Linked DNA regions of Homo sapiens: regions 2 and 3 are each linked to region 1. Evidence: fine-mapped expression QTL. A gene starts in region 1. Each other region holds a variant in brackets. All regions are shown on one strand. Distances are from middle to middle. Region 1 holds the start of INSIG1 (insulin induced gene 1). Region 2 holds the start of LOC124901783 (a long non-coding RNA gene). Region 3 overlaps LOC105375588 (a long non-coding RNA gene).

Region 1 (7,042 bases):
CTGGGACACAGAGAAAGAGATCACTGTGGTCTGGAATAGTTATTCTTTATAGACACGAACTTGGAATTTGGACAGGTGGGAAGGAATGGCATTCCAAAAGAGAAGTAAAATGGCAAAGATGAAGGCAGGAATGAATGTCTGTAGGGGGGAGTGGGGTGCCGGCCCGTGGGGTTGGATGCTGGGACACAAGGGTCACTGTGTCCCAGGGCTCTTGAGAACCCTGCAATTGTTTCACCTCAGTGTAGTATGAAAGAAATATACATTTTAGGTTCAACTGAGAAACAAGAAACACAGTTTGCATCAAACATTCAGATAAAAAATGTTGTTTTCAATTTATTATACTTCATCAGGTTCTAATTTTGGAGTTCTGAAAAATGGACCCCCCAAATTAACTTTACTTCACTATAGCTTAATAAATAAATAGGTAAAAAACATACTATGAAAAATTTTACTTATGCTCTTGGCTGATGGTTTAAAAAAAAGTAGAATATGAGAGTATGAGAAATTGTCCAGATATTCCTAGAAACCCTTGAGGATCCAATTACAAATACTGAAGGCTAAACTATTTCATTTCTAAGATCAAGTTTTTGGTTAAAGGAAAGAAACTATTCTGCCAAATGTATATGAAACATGGAATTTTAAATCTAGATATAGTTCTCAAAAAATGTTCAATTAGTACAGCCACATAAAGTGTTTCGAAAAACGAAAGAGGATCCCGTCCCTCCGAGAACAAATATGAAAACATTCTACCCACTACTTAATAATTACAGACACCTGTCCTAGTTCTTCAACACGGAGCCCTCTGTTAATCTGCTACAAACCTCTCTGCTGCTTGCTGTTTTCAGTGAGTCAACTGAGGCAATGTGTTTCCACAGTGCAGGAGACACACCTACCAAGGCAGCAGGAGCAGTTACCAACGATGGCTTGGCCCCTTTCTACCTGCGCACCCTTGGATGTGACTTCACCTGTGATTCAGTTGCCACATCTATAAATGAAGCTACACATGGTATTGCTGTAAGGAATGAACACAGCAAAGCATCTGAAGCCTATGGTCAGCAGTCAGCTGACAAACGTCAGCCACAAAGCAAACAGGATGCTCCCTGCACTGCACTGGAGTCACTGACATACTGGTTTGTTTTCCCCACCAGACTCTAAGCTGCTTAAGGATAGGGGCTTGTGGTGCTCACTTTTGGATTAACATTTCAACAGCTTATAGAGTTGAGGTTGCAGAAAGCACCCGACAAGCTCGTTAAATAAACAAATGCTGTGTGACTACAGGAGCAGTAAGTGATCTGCTGAGCCAAGATCAACTCAACATTTCTATAAAAGCGGTTCAATGATAGCCAAGAAAGTCTAGTACACACACCCAGCAGTCCCCGTGTCCACAGTTCAGACTGACTCAGTGTTACGTTGTACAGCATCTATGCTACTGCTTGGGTGTACGAAAATCTAAACGCCGTAAGGGGGTTACTCTTTTCCTTAAGAACGTAATCTACAGAGCTCTAACAGTTCAGGGTGTAGGCGGTTTGGCTTCAGACCACAGTTTACTCAGCGACCCGGCAAAAGGAAGTGCTGAGAAGTTGCTCCCCTGGCAACCGCCTCCTGAACCCATGTGACGGGTTTGTTTTCAGTTATCCAGCAGGGTAGCATGTTTGCTGCCGCGACCAATGGCCTTTCAGTCCCGCTGCTCACCAGTTCCCCAGGCGGCCAATCCGGGGCGGCTGGCGCGGGATGACAGCTGGGGCTGTACCCGGACGCCAGGAGGGAAGGGCCCTCAGTCAGCTTGGCACAGCACCTGCTTGAACAGCCAATTATCTCCCTGCCTCATCTCCATCACTGTGCTTCCTCAAACTTCAGAGAGCTGTGGCCCGAACCCGCCCTCGGGGGTGCCAGGTCCTCTCTACCCCTCCTTCATTTCTCTAAATCCCAAGACTGGAGATGCACACTTTCAATCTGTGGATAGTTCCAGTTTCAAATGCATGTTTCTTATAGGCTGAAAAGTACTTTCAACCGAAAAGACACCCTTTTTACTTCCAGAAGAACCAGGAGGGGTACTCACCAGCTGCTGTCCCGCAGCAGGGAGGGACCCACCAGGCGGAGGAAAAGATGGTGGCGATCACCTCCTCGGGGAAGAGAGTGACATTCCTCTGGATCTGCAGCAGGTTGAGCACCAGGGCTAGGACCACCCCAACCGAGAAGAGCACGAGGCTCCTCTGCAACAGGCGATGATGCCAGGTGTTGGGGTAGGGGCTGCCGGGCTCGGGGCCGCTCATCGCAGCACTGCGGCCCCTGGGCGCGGGGTCAGCGTCCGGGGCACCGTGGGCCGCCAGCAGGGAGGGCCCGGACACGGAAACGTTGATCATCTCCCCAACCTTGGCCGCCAGCCCCGCGGCGCTGGCTCGCGGGGGGCCTCGGCGCCTCGCGCTGTGCGCACAGGAGCAGCTCCAGAAGTGGTCGTGCAATCTGGGCATCGGTCACACGCGTCCAAGAGGCGCTTCCTGGAAGAAGGGGGTCATCAAGTTCACTCAGAAGAGACAAAGAGCGAGGAAGGCCCCGCGGGACGCGAACCCCGGCACCCGGGCCAGGCGGCAGCGCCGCCCCCCAAGGTTAGACCCCCGTGCGCCCGCCCGGGGCCAGCGGCGGACGGGACCCGCGCTCACAGCGAGCAGCATCCCCGGCCCCAGCGGGACCCGCGTCCCAAAGACCCAACAGGGCCCGCGCCCGCCTACCTCCGGGGAGGACCGGCTGCTGCGCGACCAAAGCCCGCCCGCGACCCCTATCCCAGCCGGCCGCGTACCTGGCCGAGAGGCGCCCGCCCGCCGGCTCTCCGAACGGAGGCGGGGCGGGGGAAAGGAGGAGTCACGGCCCGGGACGGCCGCAGCGCCTGGCGGGCGCGCGGGTTTATATGGCGGGCCGCGGGGCCCGCATCACGTGAGCCTGCCCGGCCTACCCACCGCCCGCGCGCACCGCCCAGGGGCGTGGCCTGAGCTTGCCCCGCCCCGCCCGCGAGCCCGTCCGCACGCGGTCTGGTGAGGCGGCCGCAACCAATGGGAGGCCGGCGGCCCATATGACGTGCGCACACGCCACCGCCGGCCCGCGCGCACTCGGGCGGGAGCCTCGGCACGGACTGCGGGGCGCGTGGCGGCTGCGGGGCACGCGGGCCCGAGCGGGACTGGCCGGCTGCGAGTGGGCGGCCGCGGAGCTGGGGCCTGGGAGGGGACGGTCCTGCCGGGAGGAGGCGGAGGCAGGACAGGGTGGGGTTGCGGGCCCGGCGCCGCCCCTCCCGGCTCCTGGCTCCCCTCGCCTGGTGTCCCGCGCCTGGCCGGGAGGCGGCGGGTCTCGATCGCGCGGGCCTCCCTGGAGGGGCGCGGGCTCTGGCGGCGGGGAGGCCCCTGCTCAGCGCAATGGCGGGCTTGCATCCTTGGGTGATTTTTTCGGGCCCCTTGTGGCCTTTGCTCACGCCTAGAGAGCAAACCACCCGCACCACCCAGGAGCAGATAAAATCGAGACCACAGCCTCCAAGGGAGCGCGCCTCCATCCTGTTTGCCCCTCGGGTCGCCGTCTGAGGGCGGGCCCGTGCCCGCTCAGAGCCTACATCCGAGTCGTATAAAGCGCTGACAGCAGAGAAAGCTGCGGCTTTGCTCCGTGCAGATGAGCAGGGGCTGAGGGAGGACGCTGTGCTCTCAGTAGCCGCGCTTGGCCCGGGGACCCTGCAGGCTTAGAAACGTGAGTCACGCCTGCAGCGTGGCGAGGAAACGCCGTTGATGTGGCATCCTCAGCCTGGGGTTGTGGCTTTAAGCCAGAAGGTCAAAAAAAGAAGTCTTCCTGAGCTGAGACTGCCCTGAGTCGCTTTAGGGGCGAAATTCCGAGCATCCGGTTGCATTTCCTGAGGATGACACGCGTGGTGGGTGTGGACGGCCTACAGGGGTCCATCCTCAGCGGCCCCTCTGCAGGGCAGTCTCGCTCTCACTCTCCCAGCTGACTCCTCTCAAGCCTGTTAACCATTGTACACGTTCCCAAGGACTCCAAGCAGGTTGGACTTCAGGGAACATTGCAGTTTGGGTCTTGGCCATTGTTTACACTCCACCTTGCATAAGTGCTTGAGGATCACACAACCAGATACGTAGATCATCCGTAGATCATCGCAGTCACATCGAAGATTTGTTTATAATAGGAAAAAAAAAAGCTACCCACTGTCATGCGCTGGGAAACTAGTGAGCTGAAGGATGACCCATCTGTAAATGGGGTGCTCCCTAATGGACAGGGCACCTTTCAGAAGCCTGTGCTGTGTCTCCTCGACCCCACTGTGAGCTCCCCGTCCCGCACGCTGATCTAAATCAAGCTGCTAACCTCATGGAGAGGCGTCCGCACGGGAGCCCCGGCCCTGAGATGCGGGGCAGTCACCCATTCAATTAGGAAACACCAGCAAGTGCCAGAAGCTTCTCATTAGCAGGTCAGCTTTCAATAACTGGTTTATCCAGGTGTGTGAGACCCGATAAGCAGAAGGGAAAGCTCTTAGCGACCTATCCAGCTGCTCTGCACTGGGCTCCTGACATCCCAGAAATCAGTACATCTGTCTTCTGGGGTCCAAGAGGTATTTCAGTTTCTCTGGCTTTGTTTCCCGTCATTTGTACCTGGCCCTGCAGACTACCCCAGTATTTCCATCATAATACCCCTGTGGGCAGGTGCATACCTCATGACAATATTTAATATTAATAGATTTATGTGTTGTCTCCAGAATGGAAAGGGGCTGTCTATTCCTTGAGCTAGTTGGCTTGCTAAAGACTATTGACTTCATTCTTCTTTTCCTATCTACCTAATAAACCAGTGTTCATACAACCCAGCCTCTCTGACTCTGTCCCTCCTCTCATCTGTACTGGGACATTATGAACCATGGAAGATCCTGGAGTCATAGAGGCACCCTGTGGCTCTGTGGCTGTTGCACTTACACCGACCAAGATGTCCCGTGGGAATGTGGGAAGGTTGCCCGTGGGGTTCCTGCTGAGGGCCTCCAGCGTGGCCTCTGAGTCGTAGGTAGAGATTGTCACTGCGTTCCCAATGTGTGTTTGCCCAGGTGCCTGTGGAGTCTGGCCCCATGAAGAAATGCAGCCTGGGGTAAAGACAGTGGGAGAGTTTGAGTTTACCCCCTTGAATACCCCCTTTGAAGACCGAGCCTCCATATCAGTAACCACATTCCAAGATTTTCAGGGGTTGAAATTTGCTTATCCTCAAGCAAAGCTGTTGTTGATTTTGTTTCCCTGCTAATCGTGGGCCGTGTGTTGAAGATAATGGGGTTCATTCTCTTCAGCCCCTGTCAGCCACTCTGAGTTCAGCATTTAGGGAAATCTGCTCATGATGGCACCGTTTAGTTCTTAATTGCCCCACAATACAGAAATCATCACAGATGTGGCCTTACTCTAGGGGAGTTGACTATTGTTGAGTTAAACACCTCGCCGTGCCTTCCCAGATCACTAAGTAACCCTCAGACTGGTGGCCTCTGTACTGAACAGGCTGGCGGAAGGGAGCACAGGACGGCTGTAGCTCTTTCGGATACGGAAGAATCATGCACTCATAAAGGCCTAAAGACTGGGAGGTGTCACGTAGTGAGCAATCTTGCCTTTAGTCTGTTCTTACTGTTCTTTTTATTATAACATTAATAACCATTTGTAAGAAATATTCTTAAGATAAAGTAGATTACCAAATATATATTTTTTCATATAAAAGCATCACATGCTCATTGTAAAACATCGTGGAAAAATATATTTTAAAGAAATAGTCTATAATCCTACCAACTAGAGATGACCATTGTTAACATTTTGAGGTATGTATTTCCAAATATTTTTTCTATCCATAAATGTGTTTAAAAAAACACAAATAGGATCAACTTCACATTAGTGGAACCAGTTATTAAGTGATCATGAACGTCTTTTAAAGGCAATCAATACAGACTACGCCATTTTTTAATAGCTTTAGTGAGGGCGAATTCATGCATTGTGCAATTCACCCATTTAAACGGTGAATTCAGTGTTTTTTTGTGTATTCACAGAGTTGTACAACTATCATCACAGTCCATTTTAGAACATTTTCATCACCCCAGAAAAGACCTTCATATGCTTTAGTTATTGCCTCCTTATCCCGACTTCCACCCCCAGCCCACGGCAACCACTGATCTACTTCCTGTCTCTATGGATTTCCTGTTCTGGACATTCGTATGAATGGAATCGTATAATATGTGATGTTTTGTGACTGGCTTTGTTGACATAATGTTTTCAAGGTTCATCCATGTCATAGCATATGTCAGCACTTCATCCCTTTTTATGGCTGAATAATGTTCCATTGTATGGAGAGGCCACATTTTGATTATCCGTTCACCAGCTAGTGGACGTTTGGGTTGTTCTCACTTTTCGGCTATTACGAATGATGTTGCTATAAATGTGCACAAGCTCATCCATGTGGGTGTAGCTCTTCATTTCTCTTGGGTGGAGTTACTAGGAGTGCACTTGCTGGGTCACATGGTAACTCTATGTTTAATCATTTGAGGAACTGCTGGACTTTTTCCAAAGCAGCTGCATGATTTTAAACCTCCATCAGCAGGGTATGAGGGTTCTGATTTCTCCACATCTTTGCCAACACTTGTTATTCCTTGAGTTTTTGATTCTAGCCATCTCAGTGGATGTGAAGTGGTATGTCATCGTTTTCAAAAGCAGAATAGTGTTTGTCTATGAAGGGAAGTGCCTTAGCTTACTTGCCATGAAAGCACAATCCCCCAAGAGTGAGGGAAAGAGGTGAGTGAAGCAGTGAAGGAGAAGCTATGGTGAGGGTCACCTCACTGAGCCGACCATGGCTGTTGCGTGACATGTGGTTGCTAGTCACACAGGGTACCTTCTGTACAGGCTGTGGAGACCCACCATGCCTTGCAAGAACAGTCCTTTGGGGGAAAAGAAAGAAAAGAAATGCATCTGGTAGCTCTCTATCTTCCGTCTCTTACTGGCCCCAGTTTACCCCTCCTTCATTAACTCTTTCAGTTTTCCTGATTCTAATA
Region 2 (7,042 bases), 90 kb after region 1:
GAGCATAGCACAGCCAGCAGGTGCCTGGGAGCACAGTGGGGAGGAGGGGAGGATGCCCACCTGTAGCTGTGACTGCTTTTCCTGGTGGTGGGGGAGGGAGAGTGTTCATATGGACCCAGGCCTGGGGCACTGGCCGTGTATTTATCCACAGAGGGACCAGGAGATGCAGGAGCCCTCCTAGTCTCCCCCTGCACCGCCCTCACCACCCACCCCCATGAGGAAGGGGCCGTCCCAGAAGATGCTAAGAGGCTCAGCCCCTCCTCCATGGAGTTTGGGAAGGTGACAGTGTTAAGGTAAACTCCAAGAGTCTCTGGGGTTGAACAGAAACCACCAGAAGATGTTGGGCAGCTTATGGGGGCTGTGTGGGTTCATGGGCTCCAGGATGCTCGGCCTCCCTTTCACTGTGGCGGTACTGGAGGCGCTGCTCACATGGCCGGCTCAGGCAGCTTGGGTAGACACCGCCAAGTGCAGGGGCAGGAACCTGCTAATAAGATGGGGGAGAGATGATGGTGATGGGGGTGGGGCGTCTCAGCAGGACTCCAGCTCCTCTGAGGCTCCTACCCCTCCAGCTCCCCCACCTCCCAGAAGGAATCCGGTTCCCAAACTGGGAGATGGTCCTGATTACCACGGAGCAATTAAGCAAGCTGCGGAGGAGAAGCCGTAGTGAAGACCCTCCCCACGCATGCTGTGTTTGCTCATAGGAGCAGGGGCATGAAAGGTGTGTGCAGGGTGCGGGGGAGGGGTGGGAATGGAGCAGGGTAGGGGGAAGGGAGCGGGGGAAAGAGGTTCCTGAGAAAGGAAGGCACCAGCGAAAATGAGAAGGTCCACGTGGCATAAACTTAGGGAAGAGAGGACAATACCCTCTCTTGTCATTATAAATCTGTAAAAATGAACATGCACACGGGCAGGAACAGGAGGCACAGGGCCGACGCCAACACGGATGGGGTTGGTGATGACATTGAGGGACCTCTGTCTTAGAGTCTGTTGTTCTTCAATACAGGTTTTGTAACAACAAAAAAGAAAGCTGGCTCCAAGTGTGGAAAGAAAGCAGAGGAAGGAACGGGTGGGGACCCTGTTGGCAGCTCTCCCTGAGGACGGGCCAGGATGGGGGGTCCTGGGGTCTGGGATTCTGACCCCAATCTTTAGAGCAGTCCCTAAGCCCCTTGCTCGCAGGGAGTGAAGCACCAGCAGGCATGGCTGCCAGGTCAGCAGACAGCCGACTCGGCTTCCTCGATGGGCAGCTTGCCCCGATGTCACGGCTGGCATTCACCGTGGCCCATGAAGGCGGTGGAGAGTGCCCCACAGGAGCAATCTGCCGCCAAAGGGGACGTGACGCCTGCCAGGAATGCCCAGCACACACCCAGTCTCGGGGCACCTGCCCTCACAGCTGGGGGGCGTCACCTATGTGCCCCGAATGTAGTAGATCATGTGGTGCCTGCACCAAGGCCGTGGCATGAAATTCAATAAAATTTCCCCAAATTCATTGTTCAGTCATGACTCATTTCCAAGGAAAGGAGTGAAATCCACCCTTCTTCCTTTGTTCTTTCTTCCTCCTTTGAAAGTGTCCCCATGGAGAAGCCCCCACTCCTACAGTCTTGAGAAAGAGCCTCTCACACACTCACACCCATTCCCACACACAGACACACTCATACACACACACATATTCCCACACACACTCACATTCCCCACTCACACCCATTCCCACACAGACACACTCATACACACACACCCATTCCCACACACACATTCCCCCCACACACCCATTCCCCACACACACTCACATTCCCACACACACTCACACCCATTCCCACACACACATTCCCACACACACCCATTCCCCCACACACACCCATTCCCACATACATTCCCACACACTCACACCCATTCCCACACACACATTCCCACACACATTCCCCCACACACACTCACACCCATCCCCACACACACATTCCCACACACATTCCCCCACACACACTCACACCCATCCCCACACAATTCCCACACACACTCACACCCATTCCCACACACACACCCATTCCCACACACCCATTCCCACACACACCCATTCCCACACACACTCACATTCCCCCACACACCCATTCCTACACACACACACACACCCATTCCCCCCCACACATACACACTCATACCTATTCCCCCACACACAGACACACACACACCCATTCCCCCCACACACCCATTCCCTCCCCCCACACACAGACACACTCAGGCCCATTCCCACACACACACACACCCATTCCCCCACAGACACACACACACTCTCACACCCATTCCCACACACACAGACACACACCCATTCCCCACACACAGACACACTCATACACACACACCCATTCCCACACACTCACATTCCCCCCACACACTCACACCCATTCCCACACACAGAGTCATACACACACACTCACACCCATTCCCCACAGACACACTCATTCCCCACACACAGACACACTCATACCCACACTCACACCCATTCCCACTCACACACTCACATGCCCACACTCACATTCCCCCCTCACACCCATTCCCACACACTCATGTTCCCACACACACACTCACACCCATTCCCACTCACACACTCACATGCCCACACTCACATTCCCCCCACACCCATTCCCACACACTCACGTTCCCACACACTCACACCCATTCCCACATACCCATTCCCACACACACTCACATTCCCACACACACATTCCCACACACACTCATACAGTCTCACACCCATTCCCACACACACACTCACATTCCCACACACTCACACCCATTCCCACACACACACACTCACACACTGTAACACACACACCCATTCCCACACACACACCCATTCCCACACAAGACACACACACCGATTTCCACACACACACGTACGCACACCCATTCCCACACACACCCATTCCCCCACACATTCCCACACACATGCACTCCCACACACACCCATTCCCACACACACTCATACACACTCACACCCATTCCCACACACAGACACACACACGCACGCACACACGCGTACACACACACATTCACACACAGTCACACACGTTAAGCCATTTTAACTTTAGCGCCTCAGCTCTCAGTCCCCAAATCACCTGCACACCCAGAGGCAGGGGCTACTCACAACGGAGCACCTTGGACAGAGGCAGGTAAACCCACTAAGCTGGATTCCTGGAGAAGCAGGAAAAAGCGGAGCCGTTTCTCCTTGAACATCCTAGATGCTCAGATAAAAGAGATGGAATCTCATTGGATGGATTTGAGGAAACCCCCAAAGCTGCTTCTTGAAAACATCAACCAGCGACCTGCCGTGTGCTGAGATTCTACCTGGCTCTTTGTTTTCAGGAAGTCTTCCTGAGAGAGCACACTGTTGGCGTTTTGCTGGGTAGATATCCCTTGGGGGGGTGTCCTACCTACTGAAGGGTGAATAGCAACCTTGCTCAACCATCACCCCAACAAAATCCAGGAGCACCCTCAGTCACTGTGACCCCCAAATGGCGTTTGTTGTATCCCCCAAATCCATATGTTGAAGTCTTAACCCCCAGGACCTCAGAATGTGGCTGTATTTGGAAACAGGGTCTTTCAAGAGGTAACTAAACTAAGATGAGGGCTTTGGAGTGGGCCCTAATCTAATCTGACCGGTGTCTTTAGGATGCAGTTTGGGTATTTGTCCCTGCCCAGATCTCATGTGGAAATGTGATCCTCAGTGTTGGAGGTGGGGATTGGAGGGAGGTGTTTGGATCATGGGGGTGGATCCCTCATGAATGGCTGGGCTAGCCTCTTGGTGATAAGTGAGCTCGAGCCCTGGGTTCACAGGAGTCCTGGTCTTTTAAAAGTGTGTGACACATCCCCCCTCCTCTTTCTCACTCCTGCTTCCCCCTGTGATGAGCTGGCTTCCCCTTCTTCTTCCGCCATGACTGGACGTTTCCTGAGGCCACCCCAGAGACAGATGACGTCACGCTTCCCGTACAGCCTGCAGATCCCTGAGCCAATTAAAGCGCTTTTCTTCATAAATTACCCAGCCTCAGGGACTTCTTTATAGCCAGGTGAGAACGGACTAAGAAGAAAAAGTTGGGAAGCAGACGCTGACAGAGGGATGACCACGTGAGGACACAGGGAGAGGATGGCGTCTGCAGG[C/T]CACGGAGGGGCCTGAGGAGGAACCAGCCCTGCCCACGCCGTGATCTCAGATTTCCGGACCTCAGGACTGCGGGGAAGGGAGTTTCTGTTGTTCAAGCTGCTCGGTCCACGGTACTTTGTTATAGAAGCCACAGCAGAGTTATATGCGTGTGTATGCGTGCACACACACACTCACACACACACACACAGACACTAACACACACGGACACACACTTTCTCACACACAGAAACACACAATGACACACACAGACACACTGACACACAGGCACAAACACACACACTCTGTCACACTGACACACACACACAAACACTGACACATTCACATACGGACACACTCTCGACCACTCACACACACTGACACACACAGACACACTGACACGCGGGCACACACAGACACACTCACGACACACAGACTCACGTACACTGACACACTCTCACGGACACACACTCTCGCACTCTCACACAGACACACACACTGATACAGACACACACGCTGACACACACAGAGACACACACACTGACACATCCACACAGAGGCCCCACATTTCTCAGCCTTTTGAGGTAGTACATTTAAATAGCATTTAAAATACCTATTAATTCATTAAAACACTCATAATCCTGTTATACGTCAGCGTAAATACCTTATGACAAATAGCCGACTGGAAACCACTGACTGAAAACCACAGAGTCAGCTCACGGAAGATGGCTGTTAAAATGCAAATGCACTTTGGGGAGGACATGGTGGCGTGAGTGTCAGGAAGGAGTGACTTGGCTTGTGAGTCAGCGTCTAGAAGGCGTGCGTCTGGCCTCTGAAGTCGGATGGGAGGGCCTGGGCTGCCTCCTGACTGCCACTTCCCTGCTGCGCGGCCTCCAGCCAGTGTCTCCACCTCCCTGCCCTTGGTCCGTAAATGGGGGGGTAATAGGACCCACTGCACGCGTTATAGGAGGGTCAAGTGGCTCCATATCTGCAAAGGGCTTAGGACAGCGCCTGGAAAGCACGCGGCGTCTGCCTTCCTCCGTCACTGGGAAGCTCGGGGGAGGGGCCACACGGACACAGGCTATTGGCTGAGGGAGCAGGGAGGGGCTGAGACACGATCTGGAGCCCGGGACTCACACATTGGGTCTGAAGAGCTATGGAGGCCACCACGGAGCATGCGTTTATGGGGGTTGAATGCAGCCACGATGCCACGTTAGAAATCACCAATGAGAAACACTAGAAATCGAAACTAAGAGCATTTAAAATACCTATTAATTCATTAAAACAATCATAAACCTGTCATACGTCAACGTAAATACCTTATGACGAACAGCTATATTTTCCAAAACAAAAAGCATTTAGGGGGAGGCATGGCATTGTCTTCGTGTCTGCAGAGCTCTCCAGTGTCTGACTTGGAAGAGCTGGGTTTTCCTGCCTGCTCCTGCATTCCACCTGCTTGCAGAGCATGGAGACAGTTCCGTGTGACACAGACATGCAGCTAGCAAAGTGGGTCCCTCAGGGGGTCTCGGGGATGTCAGGGTCCAGGGGCCTCCCTGAGGGCTTCTGATATGGTCTGGAAGGTGCTCCGCAGAGCCAGGGCAGTGGGCGTGCTGGGGAGCCAGGCTGGGGGGCTGGGCACCCCCTCCCTCATCCAGAGCAGCCCTATTCCTATCAGATACATGTCTTGGGCTCTGAGTCAAATGCTGTGTGTACAATAAAGTGGATACACCTGCTCTGGGGCCTGGGGCTACACTGGAAAGGTGAGGCTTTGGGATGGGATGGTGGAGGGGAACCGCTAGGGCCCTGGGAGATAAGGGCGAGAGGCCTCAGGTGTGCCCAGGTGGGAGAGCCAGGGCACCTGCAGTGCTGCTGGTCCAGTCCCAAAGCCAGCAGAGGCCCTGCTACCTCCACATGCTGGACTCCAGGAATTGCTCCTGGCAGCAGCAGGGAGCCCTGTGGAGCCAGGACACAGAGCCACATGGTGCGAGGGTGGCTGCTGCCAGGAGTGGAGAGGCGGCGTGCACATGGGTGACCTTGAGTGCACAGGTGCTGTGTGCCCACACAAGAGGTAGCTGGCCCACGGGGTGCTGCCCTCCCTCTGCCCCCCCAGCACACCTGGTCCACACACCTGCCCTGCTTCACCTGGTGCCACACCCTTGGGAGCACTGCTGAGGCCTAGAAGTCTTGGGCATGAGTGTGGCCTCCCGATAGGCAGGGCTCTGGCTCTCATCTGGGAGCACGGCAGAAGCTGTTGTCTGGGAGCACGGGTGTCCAAGCCCATGGAGAGCTGTCCCCCATGGAGAGCTGTCCCCCAGAGCCACCTCTTGCTGGAGGCAGAGCGCCTGCAGCAGGATGCGGGCCTCACATCTCAGGGCCTCGGCCTCCCTCGTGCTTACCCCTCCCACAGGCTCCTCTGCCCTTGCTGTCCTCACCTGGACCCTCCCCGAGATCCCCGAGTGCCCATCCCTTCACCAGGAGCCACTGGCCCAGTGTCTGTTTCCTGCCTCACTTTCCTTCCCAGGGTATCCCCTGCTGCCCTGCATGAGGCTTCTTTACCTGCTGTCTGTCCACCCCAAGGCAGGAGCTCCCTGAATGCTGGAGCACCAACAGCTCGGTCCCTGCAGAGTCCCAGCACCCAGTGAAGCCACTGTGAGGAGGACTTGGGCCTCAGGATGCACGTGCAGCCATGGAGACCCCACGGGGCGGCCCCTCGGATGATCCTGGCCTTCTGGGTGGTCCCCGAGGGTTTGTTTCTTTCTGGGACTTTCTAACAGGAGGTCCTGCTCCTTGCCGCCGACTCAGCCCTGCCTGTAGCTTCCACAGTGCGTCAGAAGTCACCGCTCACCTGATGCTGGGAATCCTCCTCCCAGGGCTCTGGAAAATTCCACCTCAGCCTGACAGACTCTCCCTCCCGCACCT
Region 3 (7,042 bases), 36 kb after region 1:
CTCAGAAGAGGTCTCATGGTGTGTGTGTGTGTGTGTGTGTGAGAGAGAGAGAGAGAGAAGAAAGTTGAAGAGTGAAAGCCCATAGTTGCTTAAGGCAGGAGAACTGATGGGTGAACTTTGCTATTATTTGCTACACTCTGGGAAAGTGTTTTATTCTTAGCCCATGTCTCTTCCCAGCATGCACACACTCACACTCATACGCTCACACACTAACAGATACACACACTCAGACATACTCCCACACTAACACTCAGACACATACTAACACTCAGACACCCACTCACACTCACACACACTCCCACACACTAACACTGAGACACACACACTAACCCTCAGACACACACTCACACACTAAATGCAGACACACACACACTAACTCTCAGACACACATACACAGTCACACATACTCAGACACATACACATACACTCAGACACACGCGAACACGCAGACACACACACTCACACTAACACTCAGACACACATACGCAGTCACATATACTCAGACACACATACTTACACTCAGACACACAAACTCCCACGCACTCACACACACACTAACACTCAGACACACATACACAGTCACACATACACTCAGACACACACACACTAACAGTCATACTCCCACACACTCACACACTTGCTCACTTGTACCCACTTCCCTCCCTGCTCTCGCCTGCCTGGTTGAGGGGTCCACAGCCACGCAAGACCACCCCACGCCACTGCGGGGCGCCAGGCATCAGCTTTCTGAGCCCTGAGTGGGGTCCGGTCCTCTCCCCTTGGGCTTTTTGGTTTTGGTCTTAGAAATGTTCGGGGAGCCATGGGGGTCATCCTGTGCCCTCCTCCTGGTCTGTTCACCAAGCTCAAGAGGGAAGACAAGTGATCAGAAATCCGCAGATAGTGAGCAACAGCGGGAAAGGACTCACCAGGAAGGAGGCAGCCAAGAAAGAGCAGTGAGTGGAGAGGCAACATGTGCCACGGCGCACCCCGAGGGGAGGATGCACCCTCCAGCGAAGGCTGCACCCCCAGGGAAGGGCTCACCCTTGAGTGAAGGCTGCACCCCGAGGGAAGGGTTCACCCCAAAGCTGCACCCAGAGGGAAGTGCTCACCCTGAGGGAAGGGCGCACCCCAAGGGAAAGTTTCACCCCGAGGGAAGGGCTCACCCCTAGGGAAGGGCGCACCCTGTGGTAAGGGCTCAACCCGAGGGAAGGGCTCACCCCGAGCAAAGGCTGCACCCAGAGGGAAGTGCTCACCCCGAGGGAAGGGTGCACCCCAAGGGAAAGATTCACCCCGAGGGAAGGGCTCACCCCAGGGAAGGGCTCACCCCTAGGGAAGGGCTCACCCCGAGGGAAGGGCGTGGCTGTGTGGCCCAGTCACCACCTTGATTAGAGGCTCCTCATCTGGACCTCTGCAGAGAAAGGGGGCCGACAGTAAGCATTTTATTTCATTTTTGGTTTTTGTTTGTTTGTTTTGAGACAGGGTCCTTCTCTGCTGCCCAGGCTGGAGTGCAGTGGTGCAATCTTGGCTCACTGCAGTTTCAACTTCCCAGCTTCAAGCAATCCACCCACCTCAGCCTCCCAAGTAGCTGTGACCAGAGGCATGTGCCACCATGTTCAGCTAATTTTTTAAATTTTTTGTGGAGACAGGGTTTCGTCATGTTGCTCAGACTGGTTTTGAACTCCTGACCTCAAGCCTTCTGCCCGCCTCAGCCTCCCAAAGTGCTGGGATTAGAGGTGTGAGCCACCGCACCCAGCTAAATTGTAAACATTTTCAGTGTGAAGGAATTAGTTTACATTAAAGATGTTTCCTATGGTTGGTGATTTTGGAGGGTGATTTGGGCTAAGGCTGATGGGAAGGGGAGGGCCGTGAAAGTGGCACCCCATTGACAGACGGTGTTGGCAGGCTGGTCTGCAGGTCTTCCGGTCTCTGTCAAACATCCACAGACAAGACAGAGCAACATGGAGAGGTCCAGGCCCACATGGAGATGCATTTATCTAGCATTTTCTCCTTAAGCAGAAAAGATGAGCTCGCAAAAAAAAAAAAACCAGCACGACATTGACCTTGAAATTCCATCATTATTGTAATTGATCACAAGTCAGCTGATCACTAGGCAACTCCGCTTTCATCACCAACTGTGCAAGGCCAGGAAATCCACACGTGCCCTCCTCCTTGTGTGGTAGACGGCCGCCAAGATCGCATTCTTTAGATCACGCCGAAAAATCTCTGCTGACATTTTCATGTCAAACAGGAGTATGTGCTTACGGAGGAAAGAACCACTTACGGTTCTCAGTGGGAGGTGGCAGAACACAGCTCTGGGTAACTGAAGCAGAAAAGGAATTGTTAAAAGAGTATTTAAATATTCCTTTAAATTATTAAAGCGATTATTAAAAGAATTATATATTGTCTAGCTCAAGGAATGGAGGTGGCGTGGGGAGGAGAACGAGTTTCCTAGCCTACCACAGCGAGAAAGATGCTGGGAAAAAGGACACTGGGACCCGCTCAGGGAAGTCTCTACCACCAGCACTACTGGCTGCACACACAGAAGGGACCTCAGGCTAGAGGCTGCAGGCTGCCGCTAGACCTGCTGACACCTCTGCCCATGGGAACGGCGTGGCCATCCAGGGTGGTGTCTGAGCCGTCTGAGTTCTGGGAGTCACTAGCTTCCCGGCAGGGTAGGCTTGCAGCTAGGCTCATGGGTGCGAGTGCCCCTGTGGGCAAAGCGAGTGCTGGCCTCTGCACTTTCTGAATGTAGTGTAGCTACGTTCAGATCCTGTGTCACGAGTTGGAGGATTCACCAAACACTGGGAAGGATTTCAGATGCCTGGTGGCCAAAAAAAGGATGGCAATGTCCACTGTGGCAGAAAAGCTCTCTGGAAGTCCAGGAACCACTGCTGGAAAGCTGCTGTTTAGGAGCTGGGTCAGTGCAAGAATGAGAGGGCGCCCTGTGTGGCTGCAGGTGACACATTCAGGGCACAGCCAGGGAACACAGTCCAGCCAGATCAAATGGCCTGGCCCAGAGCACCATTATTAAGTTTTACTATGGAATTGTGCTTGTGAAGTAAAGGGCGTTCTAGACCGTGTTGGGAATATGCACTGAACACAGAAGAATACGCTAAACTGAAATACTGTAGGCTGCTGTGACCAACCTTTTCTGGGAATGTGCAGAATGTACAGAACTTGAGACCTTAAAGTGAGGGCAACTGATGCTCTCGTCATCCTGGAAGCCGGAAGTTTGAAGTCAAGGTGTCGGCAGGGCAGGCTCCCTCCGAGGGTGGGAGGGAGAGTCTGTTCCAGGCCTCTCT[A/C]CTGGCATACTATGGTGGCTTGGTGTCTTTGGTGTTCCTTGGCTGTGGACATGTCACCCCCAGCCCTGCCTCTGTCCTCTGGGGTCTTCTCCCTGAGAGTCTATGTCTTCACAGGGTGTGGCATCTTCTGTCTGGAAAACAGGTTATCTGCTTCCCAAATGCCATGGTGGGACAGGCAGAAGAAAGCCAGTCCCCTTCCAAAGGGGAGAAACTGGAGGGAAGACGCTGTCTCGGGTCCTAAGCAACACCCCAGCCCCACAGGGCAGGTTCCACTGGGTTCAGGGCCTGCGGTGACTGTGTGGCGTGTGCTCTGTGCCCTGCACCCCTGCACCAGGCTGGAGTCGAGGCTGAGATTCACAGCAGGGCACAGCCTGAAGGAGCCACTGAGCCGTCTGCGAAGACACAATGTCAACAGTGGAACGGTCTGGGCCCCCTTCTGAGGAATAAAGACCGCAGCCTCCAGCCAGGAAGCAGGAGACTTGTTAACTCTGACTCCAGACATCACGTCCAGGGAAAACGAGGCTGGCGGAAAGGTTTCATCCTGATATTCTACAATCAAACTTCCTGACCACCGACGCACAGAGACGATGATGACACTTGTAGTTTAGGCTATAACCGAGAGGACACCGGTCCTCAAGATTTAGGGGAGTGGAGAGCAGGGATAGCAGATGCGTGTCCTGAGTGCCAAGCATCGGTCAGGATAAAGCTAAGCTGCTGAAACCTGAAAACGTGGGTGCTGCTCGCTGACAAGACAGCTCCTGGGGGCCGGCCCGGGTCAGGGGTGCAGGCCCAGGCTGCCGTCCAGGGACCCAGGTTCTCCTGGGCTGGGATCTGCCACTTTCAGGGCAGAGTCCTCCTTGTGGCCCACTGTGGCTCCTGCTGGCTGGAGGGGGAGAGTGGAAGGAGGTGCTAACTGCATGGAGGCTGCCCCAACCTCATCCCCATGGACGAGGGCAGGAGTCTGGGTGGAGAGCTTGCAGCCACTGTTATGCAGACCCTGCTGGCTGCTGCACTGGTCACATAGTAGTAGGTACTTTGTGAACACATGATTGCTCATAAATCAAAGCACAGCAGAGGCCAGCCCTCATCACAACGGAGCAGGTGGCCTCCTCCAGCCCACGCTGCACTTACTGCCTCTGGGAGGCTCTGTCCTGTGATTCTGTGGAGTGGCAGTCGGCAGCTCAGTACTTCCTGCACTGGGCTTGCTGGCCACACATCCCAAAAGCAGGGGCCTGAGGGCATGAGCAGGAAGGACATTGAGGAAAATGCAAAGGACCTGAGAACAGGCTGGGGACACGGGTCACTAGGTGATTGCATTACCCGGAACCTAGTCCAGCGATGCCTCCTTTAGGTCAGAGAAGGGTTCCCAGGGCCAGGGAGTGTTTACAAGAAAACTCCCTTGGCAATGAGCCTATACTATAACTTGGGGATATGATTTTGGCACCGTGAACCCAAACCAAGCTATGGGTAGATGGGGATGTGGTAGGGCCCCACTGTTCACCTGGCAGTTCAGATGAGCTCCTTGGCCATCATCCTGTAATAAGACTGATGGCATGGAAACAGACGGTGTTGCATCACTGAGAAAAGATTAGGATGGCTCTCATGAGGACCCAGGTCCATACGTATCACCAATTGAGAGACTTGCTGACGGCCCTCAGACAACAGCAGGGTGCCCATCCCCATCTGTCCTCACCCATCCCTCAGCCTCCACACGGCCCAGGTGTGACACCCTGAGTTTGCAACGAAACAAGGAAAGGAAAATCAGTGACCTGGACACTCAGCTCTTAGGATATTGTCCTTATAGTGGTTATATCTACATATGCGTGTGCTGCATGCATCTCCAGAGCTCTGTTGTGTGAGTACACACACATCCACACACACACAGAGAAGAGAGAGAGACACAGAGAGACAGAGAGAGAGAGAGGAGGAGGAAGAAGAAGGAGGAGGAGGAGGGGAGGAGGAGGAGGAGGGGAGGAGGAGGAGGAGGGAAGGAGGAGGAGGAGGGAAGGAGGAGGAGGAGGGAAGGAGGAGGAGGAGGGAAGGAGGAGGAGGAGGAGGGGAGGAGGAGGAGGAGGGGAGGAGGAGGAGGAGGAGGAGAAGAAAGAAGTCCAGAAACATATTCATGTAAATTTAGGCTGTGTTTCTTCCTGGAGGTATATTGAAAGAACAAGTCTACAAAAATTATATACATATAGGCCGGGCATGGTGGCTCACGCCTGTAATCCCAGCACTTTGGGAGGCCGAGGCAGGTGGATCGCAAGGTCAGGAGATTGAGACCACCCTGGCTAACACGGTGAAACCCCATCTCTACTGAAAATACAAAACATTAGCCGGGCATGGTGGTGGGTGCCTGTAGTCCCAGCTACTCGGGAGGCTGAGGCAGGAGAATGGCGTGAACCCAGGAGGTGGAGCTTGCAGTGAGCCAAGATCGCGCCTCTGTACTCCAGCCTGGGCGACAGAGCGAGCCTCCGTCTCAAAAAAAAAAAAATTATATACATATAAAACAAGGCTTTAATCCCTTACAATGCCATTGCATTACTTTTGTAATCAGAAAAAATATAATTGTGGTACAAATCAAAGTTTAGGTTGAAATATTCATGTCATTGGGATTATTTTCCAGCTTGAATTCATCCACATGATGTCTTCCACTGGATCTTCACCCTGGGCAGGCCCAGTGTTACTCATGCGTGTGGTTGGAAGGAGCCCAAAGAATGTGCCTACTCTGAAATAGTTGCTACCACCAGGCCTGGTAAGGGCCTGACATTCACAGCCTTAGGGACTGTCTTTGAGATTAGGGCATAGTGTCTCTCTCCAAGATCACGACTACAAAGCAAAACCATGCCACATGTCCCCTGCAGGGACGGCTCCCTGGGGAGGCCTTGGGAGCACAGTGGCACAGCCAGATGGAGACAGACCTGGAAGTGACCTGGGGAGGGCAGGGGCTCGAGCCAGTGGGAGACCGTGGGGGTGGGTAGGAGGCAAGATGGGGACAGCCTGAGGCGAGATGGCCGCGACTGCTCAGGCCGAATGAGGACACATCAGGAGCGAGGATCCTAGGAGGGTCTCATAGGACGAGCCTCCTGTGTGTGGCTGGGTGTGGACGGCTGAGTCCCTTGGCCACCAGCCACGTGTGGGATCAGCCCAGCCGGCCTCTGGGTCGTGTCTGTGCATCTCAGTGGATCATCGGTGGGAGCTTTCCGGGGAGGCAGAGGGGCTCTTCCTGGACAGTGCCGCCAGATTCCCCCACCACCGAGCGGCATGCCATGGCTCGGCTTGCTCCTCACAGCCTCGCCCCAGCTCTGTGGCTGGATCCGTGCTTGTGGCTAAGCCTCTTGGCAGCTCCGCCTGGATTGCTTTCAAGTCCGCACTGCCGCTCCTCCCTCTGAGTCTGTGAACGTCTCAGGGGACCTTCCACACAGTTTATAATATTGTCCCTCCTCTAGGCTTACCCTGGTCAACTTTCCCCAAGTCGGCGTGTGCCTACTTCCCACAGAAGTTTACAGAAGCCGGAAGTCCCGTCAGGGTATTAGGAGGAAGCCTGCATGTGGCGGATTTAGCCTCCTGGCCTCCTTGTCAATGGTCAGGATCAAGTTCTCCATCTCCCGTGCCAAGGAAAATACAGGCTTTGGATATGAGAGATTTTAGATGTGCTCAGCTTAGTCCCAGGCTTCTTTTTACTCAAGGACATTTCCTGGTACTTTGACCTTGCCAGGCGCTTCCAATTACTTTGTTTAATTATTTTC

What was found. PIP is the estimated chance that this variant, and not a neighbour inherited with it, causes the effect.
Region 2: its variant is fine-mapped to the expression of INSIG1 in whole blood (TOPMed, PIP above 0.99).
Region 3: its variant is fine-mapped to the expression of INSIG1 in whole blood (TOPMed, PIP 0.94).

The regions. Positions count from the first base shown.
Region 1 is chr7:155,293,715-155,300,756 of GRCh38, reverse strand. INSIG1 (insulin induced gene 1) reads right to left here and starts at 2,879. Exons shown (of 6, transcript NM_005542.6): 1 at 2,798-2,879; 2 at 2,060-2,498. The coding sequence starts at 2,471. INSIG1-DT (INSIG1 divergent transcript) reads left to right here and starts at 1,777. Exons shown (of 2, transcript NR_183448.1): 1 at 1,777-2,606. RefSeq lists enhancers at 1,354-1,423, 3,834-3,883 and a silencer at 2,544-3,373.
Region 2 is chr7:155,203,573-155,210,614 of GRCh38, reverse strand. LOC124901783 (a long non-coding RNA gene) reads right to left here and starts at 4,911. Exons shown (of 2, transcript XR_007060603.1): 1 at 4,788-4,911. LOC124901786 (a long non-coding RNA gene) reads left to right here and starts at 570. Exons shown (of 2, transcript XR_007060606.1): 1 at 570-718; 2 at 1,001-1,483. RefSeq lists a silencer at 1,362-1,656 and enhancers at 1,291-1,800, 4,730-4,979, 5,010-5,079, 5,110-5,159, 5,170-5,349. The variant C/T (reference allele first, on the strand shown) is at 4,147.
Region 3 is chr7:155,257,367-155,264,408 of GRCh38, reverse strand. LOC105375588 (a long non-coding RNA gene) reads left to right here. Exons shown (of 5, transcript XR_928227.3): 4 at 802-950; 5 at 1,477-1,516. Among named protein-coding and RNA genes, the nearest start is that of INSIG1, 37 kb to the left of the region's middle. The variant A/C (reference allele first, on the strand shown) is at 3,300.